Linked DNA regions of Homo sapiens. The protein of the gene in region 1 purifies or fractionates together with the protein of each later gene. This does not show direct contact. Each region holds a gene or a part of one and is shown on either strand. Other genes may lie near its edges. The genes, in order: PTPN9, QTRT2 and CERT1.

Evidence for each region.
Region 2: the proteins of PTPN9 (region 1) and QTRT2 purify together in Homo sapiens (affinity purification with mass spectrometry, with the first as the bait; one large-scale study listed by BioGRID). This does not show direct contact.
Region 3: the proteins of PTPN9 (region 1) and CERT1 purify together in Homo sapiens (affinity purification with mass spectrometry; one large-scale study listed by BioGRID and IntAct). This does not show direct contact.

The regions. Positions count from the first base shown.
Region 1 is NC_000015.10:75,464,229-75,467,886, forward strand, and holds part of PTPN9 (tyrosine-protein phosphatase non-receptor type 9), read right to left. Parts: 3' UTR 1-3,658. UniProt on the Homo sapiens protein: Protein-tyrosine phosphatase that could participate in the transfer of hydrophobic ligands or in functions of the Golgi apparatus.
Region 2 is NC_000003.12:114,066,729-114,070,386, reverse strand, and holds part of QTRT2 (queuine tRNA-ribosyltransferase accessory subunit 2), read right to left. Parts: intron 2,401-3,658; coding exon 2,324-2,400; intron 1-2,323. UniProt on the Homo sapiens protein: Non-catalytic subunit of the queuine tRNA-ribosyltransferase (TGT) that catalyzes the base-exchange of a guanine (G) residue with queuine (Q) at position 34 (anticodon wobble position) in tRNAs with GU(N) anticodons (tRNA-Asp, -Asn, -His and -Tyr), resulting in the hypermodified nucleoside queuosine (7-(((4,5-cis-dihydroxy-2-cyclopenten-1-yl)amino)methyl)-7-deazaguanosine).
Region 3 is NC_000005.10:75,379,891-75,382,725, forward strand, and holds part of CERT1 (ceramide transfer protein), read right to left. Parts: intron 2,188-2,835; coding exon 2,059-2,187; intron 1,312-2,058; coding exon 1,182-1,311; intron 1-1,181. UniProt on the Homo sapiens protein: Shelters ceramides and diacylglycerol lipids inside its START domain and mediates the intracellular trafficking of ceramides and diacylglycerol lipids in a non-vesicular manner.

The DNA.
Region 1 (3,658 bases):
TGAGGCTGGAGTTCGAGACCAGCCTGGGCAACATAGTGAGATCCTGTCTCTAGAGAGAGAGAGAGAAAAAAAAAAAAAGCTGGGTTCCTGCTTGAGCCCAGTTGTTGAGACTGCAGTGAGCCATGATCATGCCACTCCCCTCTAACCTAGGCAACAGAGTGAGACTCTGTCTCTGAAAGTAAAAAAAATGAAAAGTGGGGAGTGCTAGTGGGAGCCAACTCAACCCAAGTAAAGGCCTAATAGCTCCTCTATGGGTGTTTGCACTGTCTAACAAAGAACTGGACCCTGACAGTCAGAGGACCCATGGTAGGATCATCTAGTGTAGCCCCTTCTTTTACAGAGGGAACCTAGGACTTGGGTTTGGTTCAGTGGTAAGACCTCAAAACCACAAAAGAGCTGGGTCACTCTAGAGAAGCTTTTCTACTTGGCCAATGCCTCTTGGCCCAATTCCCTCTAGGTCTCTGATTTATAAAAGTTTTTGTATGTGTGTCTGTCTGTCCCAAGAGACAGGAAGCATTCCTTTCAGGGAAGGAACCAAATTTCCCTAGGGCTATGATGCTAAATAGTCCATTCTCCCAAGAACAAGTCCTACTCTGTCATTTACCTGCATACTGTCACATGAAGACTGATAAGGGTGGGCCTCCGAGGCTGAGGATGCTGGGGCACCCTTCGTCTCAGGAGTCCCATCCTAGCCAATGAGGATGGGCAAGATGAAGGGAGCAATGGGAAAAAGGACACAGGGATTATCTCATGTTTGAAAAATTATATAGCATGGGAATGTTAGAGAAAGGTGAAACAAACAGCCATCAAATCAGAAGCAGAAGCCTGCTTTAGCTCAGTGTTTTCTTCTTTCCTGAACACTGTCTTTCTTTTTTATTTATTTATTTTTTTTGAGATGGAGTTTTACTCTTGTTGCCCAGGCTAGAGTGCAATGGCGCGATCTCGGCTCATTGCAACCTCTGCCTCCCAGATTCAAGTGATTCTCCCATTTCAGCCTCCCGAGTAGCTGGGATTACAAGCACATACCACCACACCCGGGTAATTTTTATATTTTTAGTAGAGATGGGGTTTCATCATATTGGTCAGGCTGGTCTCAAACTCCTGACCTCAGGTGATCTGCCCACCTCGGCCTTCCAAAGTACTGGGATTACAGGCATAAAGCCACTGCACTTGGACCCTGAGCATTTTCTCTTGCTTTGTTCACTAAGTCTCCTGTATGAGAACCCTGACTTGCCAAACAGATTCTGGGTTGCGTCTCTGCCTTCCCTTTCCTTTACCTCCTCCTTTAACACCTAACACAGGTAGGTTCACGCTGGTAAAAGCTACAAACAATGGCAGTGGGAGGAGTTCCTCTGAGTTTTACTGAAAATTTAGGAGACATCAATTTGTTAACTCTCTATAGGGTCAGAAACATGAACTAAATCTATGGTTCCCAAACCTGGATAATCCTGTCACTCACTAACAACCTACTGGATGGGCCCAGAAATCAGCATTTTATGGAGCTGAAGTGATAGATAACCTCACCAGTCTTCAGATATGCAATGAGGAACTCATGCATAACCTTAAATTCACAGGGCAGTCGGGTTACAGCCTCTTCAAATAAATGACAATTTAAAGTTACCTCCTCCAGGCCGTTTATCATTAATCCCATTTCTTACATGTTCCACCAAACCCCTGACCTCTCTGGTTTCTCAGATTTCCAAGAATCTCTGTTCACTTCTTATGTTTGTGCACTCCCAAGAGAATGGAGGCTCATCTGGAGAAGGAACTAGATTAATCTTCTGCTCTACACTTGAGCTCCTGATTATGGTAAGAAACTCGATAAAAATTTATTGGCAGATCAGAAGATGGATCCTTAGAGGAAGTCTAGTGTAAGAGGTGAAAGAAGATACTTTGGAGTCAGATGGTCTGGGATCCTGGCTGTAGCAAATTAACATTCCTGTCTCTCAATTTTTTTCTTCTGTCAATACCTACCTCAAAAGGTTGTTGAGGGTGAATGAGATGATACCTAGAAATTACTCTGAACAGTGCCTGGAATAGAGTGAGCATCCAGTAAATTGGCTGCTATGACTATTATTAAGAACACCCCAATATTTCCCAGCCACAACTGCCCCAACTGGGCAGGCCATCAACAGCCAACAGGTATGATATGGGGAGTGGTCTTCCATGTACAAAGCTTCTGGTTCCTTTCTTTCTAAGAGATAAATGCAAATGACTCAAGATCTTCTCACAAAGACCATGTACCCATAGATATGGAGTCTCCTGGGGAGAATGATAACCCCTTTGGTACGCTGCAGACATGAGGACCCTACATCAGGAGGTCCTAGCTAGGACAGTCAGTCACCAACCCTGTCACCCTTCGCGTCTACTACATGAAGCATGGGCACAAGAACAACAACCTGGAATTTAAGAACTTTTTTTACTCTGAAAGGAGAGCTAAACAAACCTCTGTTCTCCAAACACAAGATCTCCATCTTCCATGCAGTGAAGAGACCACAGGCTTTGTAAGCAGACCAACTTGAGCTCGTTTTAGAGCAAATCACTGTAACCCTCTGGACCTCACCTTCCTCATCTATATAGAAATGAGAAAGGGGTGCACAGGAGAAGGGAGAGAAGATAATATCTCACTGAATTGTTGTGAGGTTTGAATGAGGCAGGGTGGGGGAAAAGCACCTAGCATAGTGCTTAGCACATCTCAAGCACTGAACTGGTGCTGGTCCCTCTGTCCAGAGATAGGGCCATGGCCTACAGACAAGGTGAACTCATAGTGTCAGAACTCAAAGTCTCAGATACTGAAGGCTTGGGTCCCTCCCTGCCTCCCTCATCCCTCCCAGACCAGCTCCTGGACCCCCTCCCTCATGTCCCAGGCTGCTAAATTGATGAAGCTAAAAGGGTTTTGATCATGTCGGTATATTTATATGTAAATACAAAACTGTATCACTGTAAGATATTGAATATGAACATTACAATTATTTTCTGAATCAGACTCAGTCCATTGATATTAAATACAAAATGAAATGATTGTAAAAAATAATAATATACACATTCAAAGAGCTTATTACAGTATAAAATTATTGAGGTCTGATCAGCTGCCAACCTCATCTTCTGTCACAGGGGAAGGTTTAGGAGTTCCTGGGATTTTTTGGGAATGTGGAGTGCTGAGGACTCTTGATTTATCCCTAGCACATAAGGATGAGTGGGCTGGGAGCAGGCAGGGACAGGTTGGGTGGGTAGGGGACAAACAGTGATTGCAGGGGACCACCTCACTCAGCCAGGGGGTGAAGCTTTTTATTGACACAGAACCCACCCAGTTTGAGGGTCTAGCAGGCTAGCAGGCAGGAAGAGATGGGCATCTCGGTAGACAGGGCCAAGCTGCATAAAGGAACCATCCAGCAAAAGAAAAAGGGCCCCAGCTCATCCTCCCAGGGAGGTATTTTCTTAGTGGTTTTTTCTTTCTCATACCTGGGCTCCCCCTCCTTCCTTCTAAGATTCGTACCGATTGCATTTGGCTCTGGCTGCTCAGTGAGTTCATCTCTACCCTCCGCCTCCCATCCCTGGGATAGTGAAAGCAAAGAGAGAGTATGGAATCACAGTGGAGGTCTGTTCCCCAAATTGGCCAAGTAAATGTAGAAAAATCATCGGATAAGGGAAATCCATG
Region 2 (3,658 bases), on another chromosome or scaffold:
CTCCCCTATCCCACCTGCCCCACCCCTACCTAACCCTTGCTGTTCCTGAATATACCACAGACTTTGATCACACTGTTCCTTTTGACTGACAGTTCCGTATTTCTTTTTCTTTTTTTTATTGATACATATTTGTATAATGTTATGGGGTACATGTGAGACATCTTACATATAGGGCAAGTGTAATAATCATGTCAGAGTATTTAAGTATCCATCACCTCAAGTATTTATTATTTCTAGGTGCTGGAACTTCTACTTCTTTGCCTGGCAAAATACTACGTGTCCATTGAGACACTGAGTTCACATATTAATCTGATCTCCAAACCTCCTGGACATAATCGATCACTCACTCCTCTATGCTCTTACATCAATTTGTATTTATTTCTTTATAGAAATGATAGCACTTATTACACCATTCTTTATTTGTCTGACTAGAGTATCCCAATTCATGTATGTATCCCAAAAGCACAGTCTAGGGCCCTATACATTTTTAATATCTAGTGTTTACTAGACTGAGTTAGATATAGAATTAAAGACTTAAATCTCCTAGTTCAAGAGAGTATATATTAGTAATATTCTATCTTTGAGCTAAAAGCAAAACTACCATTCAACCCAGCAATCCCGTTACTGGGCATATACCCAGAGCAATATAAATCATTCCGCCATAAGGACACATGCATGCAAATGTACATTGCAGCACTATTCACAATAGCAAAGACATGCAATCAACCTAAATGTCCATCAATGATAGATTGGATAAAGAAAATGTGGTACATATATACCATGGGATATTATACAGCCATAAAAAAGAATGAGGTCACGTCTTTTGCAGGAACATAGATGGAACTGGAGGCCATTGTCCCTAGCAAACAAATGCAGGAACAGAAAATCAAATACCACATGTTCTCACTTATAAGTGGGGGCTAAATGATGAGAACACATGGACACAAAGAAGGGAACAACAGACACTGGGGTCTACTTGTGAGTGAAGGGTGAAAGGAGGGAGAGAAGGATAAAAGGTAACTATTGGGTACTAGGCTTAATACCTCAGTGATGAAATAATCTGTACAACAAACCCCCATGACACAAATTTACCTATGTAACAATGTTTACACGTACCCCCGAAACAAAAATAAAAGTTAAAAAAAGGGAAAAAAAAATTCTATCTTTGGTTACCCTACAGATCCCTCTTCTCAGATCAACAAGGACATAGATGGCAGGCCAACATATAGTCGTTTTATTTTATACTAAGGCATCAGAATTACTGGTTAAATGATTCCTCTCTCCCTTACAATTTGGGTAGAAAATGGAAGTCAAAGTATTTTTTTTTTTTTTTGAGACAGAGTCTCGCTCTATCACCCAGGCTAGAATGCAATGCACTGGTGCGACTTTGGCTCACTGCCACCTCTGCCTCCCAGGTTCAAGTGATTCTCTTGCCTCCACCTCCCAAGTAGCTGGGATTATAGGCGTGTGCCACCACACCTGGCTAATTTTTGTATCTGTAGTAGAGATGGGGTTTTGCCATGTTGGACAGGCTGATCTCGAACTCCTGAGGCTCAAGCCATCTACCCACCTTGGCCTACCAAAGTGCTGGGATTACATGCATGAGCCACCATACCCAGCCAAAGTATTTTCTCTAGAATTCAAACTACAAAATAAATAGAAACTTAAAACAGGAGAATGAGTAAAAACAGTGTTCTGAGGGGCACAATTAATAAATATTGCTGACATTAATAAAGTGAGTGCAGGAAAAGTATTTGCGTTTGTAAAGTAGCAGTACACACTGAAGCTTTGCCAGAATGCTGTCCTCAGGGATAATGCCAATGGGGCCACCTCTCAGCCTAACACTTTTAATGAGGTGCTTTTGATACTGTTCTTCACTAGACAAAATCTCTGGCTGTAGACCCAGCAGACAATATTATATTGAGATTCTACTATATATAGTTATACATGTGATAATACTCATCAGCAACTTTCCCCACTCTTCCTGAAGTTGTTAAAAATCCAACAAAGCATGGCGCCGAAAGACTATCGTTTTCCCCTATCATAGCAATTTCTTTTTTTGGCATGTATTTGACCCTCCTCTACCCTCAAATTTTTTTGCAACAATGAAAATGCTGAGGATACAGTGTTCTTCATCTTAACCTCATCCTTAGGCAGCCCTACTCTAAGTCTTATAAACCATCCCATCCCACTATAATTATCGAAATAAGGAAAAGGTATAAGGGATCATCCCAGACAGTGGGATCTGAGCATCTGAGGGATACACCATAGGCTGACTTCCTGGGACAAAGCTGCAGCCTTGGAGACCCTTCTGAAAACACACCTTGTTTGTTACATAACCAGCCGGGCAGGGGCTGACTGGATCGTGCAGGGAGCAGTACAAGAGTGATTCTGGCATGCCTGTATAAACACAAAAAAGAACCCTTGAAAGTGCTTACATCAACAATGACACTGTATTATAGCAGGGAGCAGCTTCGCAATGTGTACTGCTGAATAAAGCAACTCTAAACACTGTCAATAGGTTGTATCTGAACTTGGAATTAGAGAAGGCCTATCAATATGTATAAAAAGATTACTAATCTAAAGAAAGAAATATAAAGCTTCACGTCTAATAAATAGGTACTGAGCTGCTACAAAGGAAAGATGTATCTTAAAGCACAATATACAATGAAAGTATTTAGTGACATGTTGATCTCATTTGACTTTACTTAAAGAATTTACTATCAAATATGCTTATTCCAGGTACCATCCAAGGGGAACTAGCTACCGCAAAGATAAAATGATATGCCCACAAAGTGATCTCACTAATAATAAATCTCAATAATATCATGGGTCCCTAGGGGCAGAATTTTAGAGAAGCTATAGGATGCTGCAAATGGATCCCATTCTTAGTAAGTTTCATTGATTCACGATGACAGTTTCTTAAGTTCTTCAGTCAAAAAGACAATCATTTTTTAAAAAATGCAAAAAAAGTTTAGTAAACCATGTGCCTAAATATCATATGCTAGCCCACATTTTCGTTAAGGAAAATAAAACAGGATTCCAGTGAAAAAAAAGCAAGTGTAAAACCTCTGCAGTTTTTTCACTTTATTTTCCATAATTTCAATTATTACAATTATCTCTAGAAAGCCTACATTAGCTATTTTCATTTAATTATATGCTTGTATACTTTAAAGCTGGTTATTAAAATTGGGCTCAGGTCAAGGAGAATGATATTCCATAAATTCCTCTACTAAAATACAGGGCTTTGTGATAACCAACAGGACATCATGCAGCTGCTCTCAGAAGCAGAAGACTGAATAACCAATGGAAACAGGATTTTCATTCAAGTGAGTCCTAGATACCAGAAAAAGCGTTAGGAGAAAGCGGTGTATAGAAGAACTGATGTTCTAGCTGTCACTGCTAAGCTTTTCCTATAAATAAATAGATGCATACATCTGCATATAAAATCCTATTTCTGGAATAAAGGATAATATTAACATATCAGAATACAGCCATATACAAACGCTTCATCCTCCCCTGCATGTTTGAGGTTCAAGCATGATGAGACTACTTTGGAGCTCACGAATGCCCCATGCAAGTTCTCACCGCTGAGTCAGATACTCAGTGCCTGCAGCATCTGCCCCACACCTGTCTGGGCTCCCACTCCTAACCTGGG
Region 3 (2,835 bases), on another chromosome or scaffold:
ATGATCTTTTAAGTCCCAACCCTTCATTCCTTAACACTATCCATCAGACATAATCAGACAGCAAATAAGAAAGCATCTATAACCTTTCTACAATGTTCTTAGTTCCCGAAATTACCTGCAAAAATTAGTATAGCACCACTTAAGGTTATTTAGGGCAGATTATTCACAAATCTGTACTATAATGAAATAGTAACTTACTCAGGTACAACTGTTTCTTTGAACATACTAGCAGTTATGGCCCTGTATAAAGAAGGTATGACTTTTGATGAGAGAGGTTGCAATGATTACTCCAGGTGCAAAGCAGGTGAAGTAAGGACCCAAAGCAAGCAATGAAAAGACCTATCCAAAGTGAAACAAATATATGTAACTAGCAACTAATAAGGACTAGGGAAACGCTGACTCAGAAAACAAAAAGCCTGACAATGAATGTCAAAGAGAAATAAATATGTAACTAGCAACTAATAAGGACTAGGGGAACATTGATTCAGAAAGCTAAAAAGGCTGACAATGAGTAAAAGAACTCTTAATTTCCTTCCCCACTGTTGCTTATATTCCTAATAATAAATCTGTTCTATGAGGCAAATATCTAAGAAAATGGTGCTTAATATGAAGGCTAGGTCGAGCGCAGTGGCTCACGCCTGTAATCCCAGCACTTTGGGAGGCCGAGGTGGGTGGATCACGAGGTCAGGAGTTCAAGACCAGCCTGGCCAAGATGGTGAAACCCCGTCTCTACTAAAAATACAAAAAACTAGCCAGGCGTGGTTGTGGGCACCTGTAATCCCAGCTACAGAGGCAGAGAATCGCTTGAACCCAGGAGGCGGAGGCTGCAGTGAGCTGAGACTGCACCACTGCACTCCAGCCTGGGCAACAGAACGAGACTCCATCTCAAAAAAAAAAAAAAAAAAAAAAGAAGGGTATATACAGTGACCTAGGGATAAAGTTTTAAAATTTTCCTATCCAGCTCTAGCTTCAGAAATACTCATATAGTAGTAGTTCCAGGGTGAAATTCAGACATCTGTACTTTCAAAGATTCTCTAGTAATTCTGATATACCTTTCTCCAAATTAAAAATTAGTAATCTAATGGATAAGAACTAAAAAGGCATTTGTCCAAATTGTTGTCATATAGGTCATGATCAAGAACAGCCACATTATCAAAGAGCAAAAACAATAAAATACATACCATTAGCTACATATGTAATCTTGCATAGAATGTTGTCCCTGCTAATTTCCTGGTTTCCCTCTGGTGGGCTTACCAAGGTTTGACAAATCATAGCAACATTTATTTTGGCACGGACACATCGGTTGTTTAGCTGCCAAAACAAAAAACAAAGCATCAGTAGATACCCAGTATTTTGTAAACTCTGCTGGTCTAATATTATATTAGGTTAACCAAAATCGTAACTCTTAAAAGTATCTCCAGTGAAATCTTATAAGCACCAAGCTGATATGACACCAGGATTCCTCCCCACCCACTTTTTCTGGGGACAAGGTCTTGCTCTGTTGCCCACTCTGGAGTGCAGTGGTGCCATCATAGTTCACTGCAGCTTCAAACTCCTGGGCTCAAAGCAATCCTCCCGCCTCAACCTCCAGAGTAGCTGGGACCACAGGTGCACATCACCAGGCCTGGCTAATTAAAAAAAAAAAAAAAATTTTTTTTAATAGAGATGGGGTCTAACCATGTTGCCCAGGATCCCTTCCTCTTAAGTAGTAAATGGAGCTAAATTGTGGTAAACCACAGAGGTTTGGCTGGCAGTTGATAACGGCTTAAGAGATAACTGTGGGAAGTAGCCTACTGCCCAGTGTATGTACTGCCCTTTTGGCTGTTTCACGAAACATTAGAAGGAAAGGTAAACGGCCCTGGTGGAATGTTCATAGGCATGACTGTTGCCCTCAGACAACACATGGGCTATACTGTTCCTAGCAGTCAATCCAACATAAAATCTAAGAACCATTATCAAATCAAGTATAGTGTATGGGCTGTGTTTATCATTTTTGTCCCGCATTGTGTATTTAGCTTTATATTGTTTAATTATACACATTTATATACATGTACTTACAGGAGCACTGTCATGATCCACAGAAAAATTACAAACTATCCAAGTTTCAGGGTCATTTTCAGTCAAGGCTGGTATCTTTCGAATGACAGAAAGATATAATACGTCTCGCTGAGAAGCAGGCCACACCCTCTGTGGAGAAGTAAAAATCTTTTGAAAAACAGATCTAACATGGAACTAACAAGAGAAACGTAATGCCAATAAATGTCTTAATTGAAGGTAAAATCTCTCAAATTTTAAATGGAAAGCATCTGAGGATATCTACCAAATGATTAATTATGAACAGAGTTAATAGCTTTGCAGAACAATATAATAAAAGGAATAATGTTCTATTTTTTTAATTGCAGTAAAATATATACACGTATAATTTGTCATTTTAACTAACTTTTAGGGTACAATTCAGGGACATTAATTACATTCACAGTGTTATGTAACCATATTGCTATCTCTGAAATTTATCATCATCCCAAACAGAAACTCTGTACCCAGTAAGCAACAACTTTCCATTCCTCTCTCCTCATACTCCATGATTATGTTCTACTTAGATTCAAAGATTTAATGAAAAAAGACTTATTTGAATCAAATCACATTAGAAAGAATTCTAAGTCACTTAGATTAAATATTTCAATATTAAGGTATGCAAGGGGAAACATATACTATGGGAATGACATGGAGCCTAGGTCTTCAATAAATGGGACTACCTACTTTAAATGAGAAAAAAAACCTTTTATCCTATTTAAGTTACTTTTATTTTGGTTATCTCGTATATGTATCTGGACT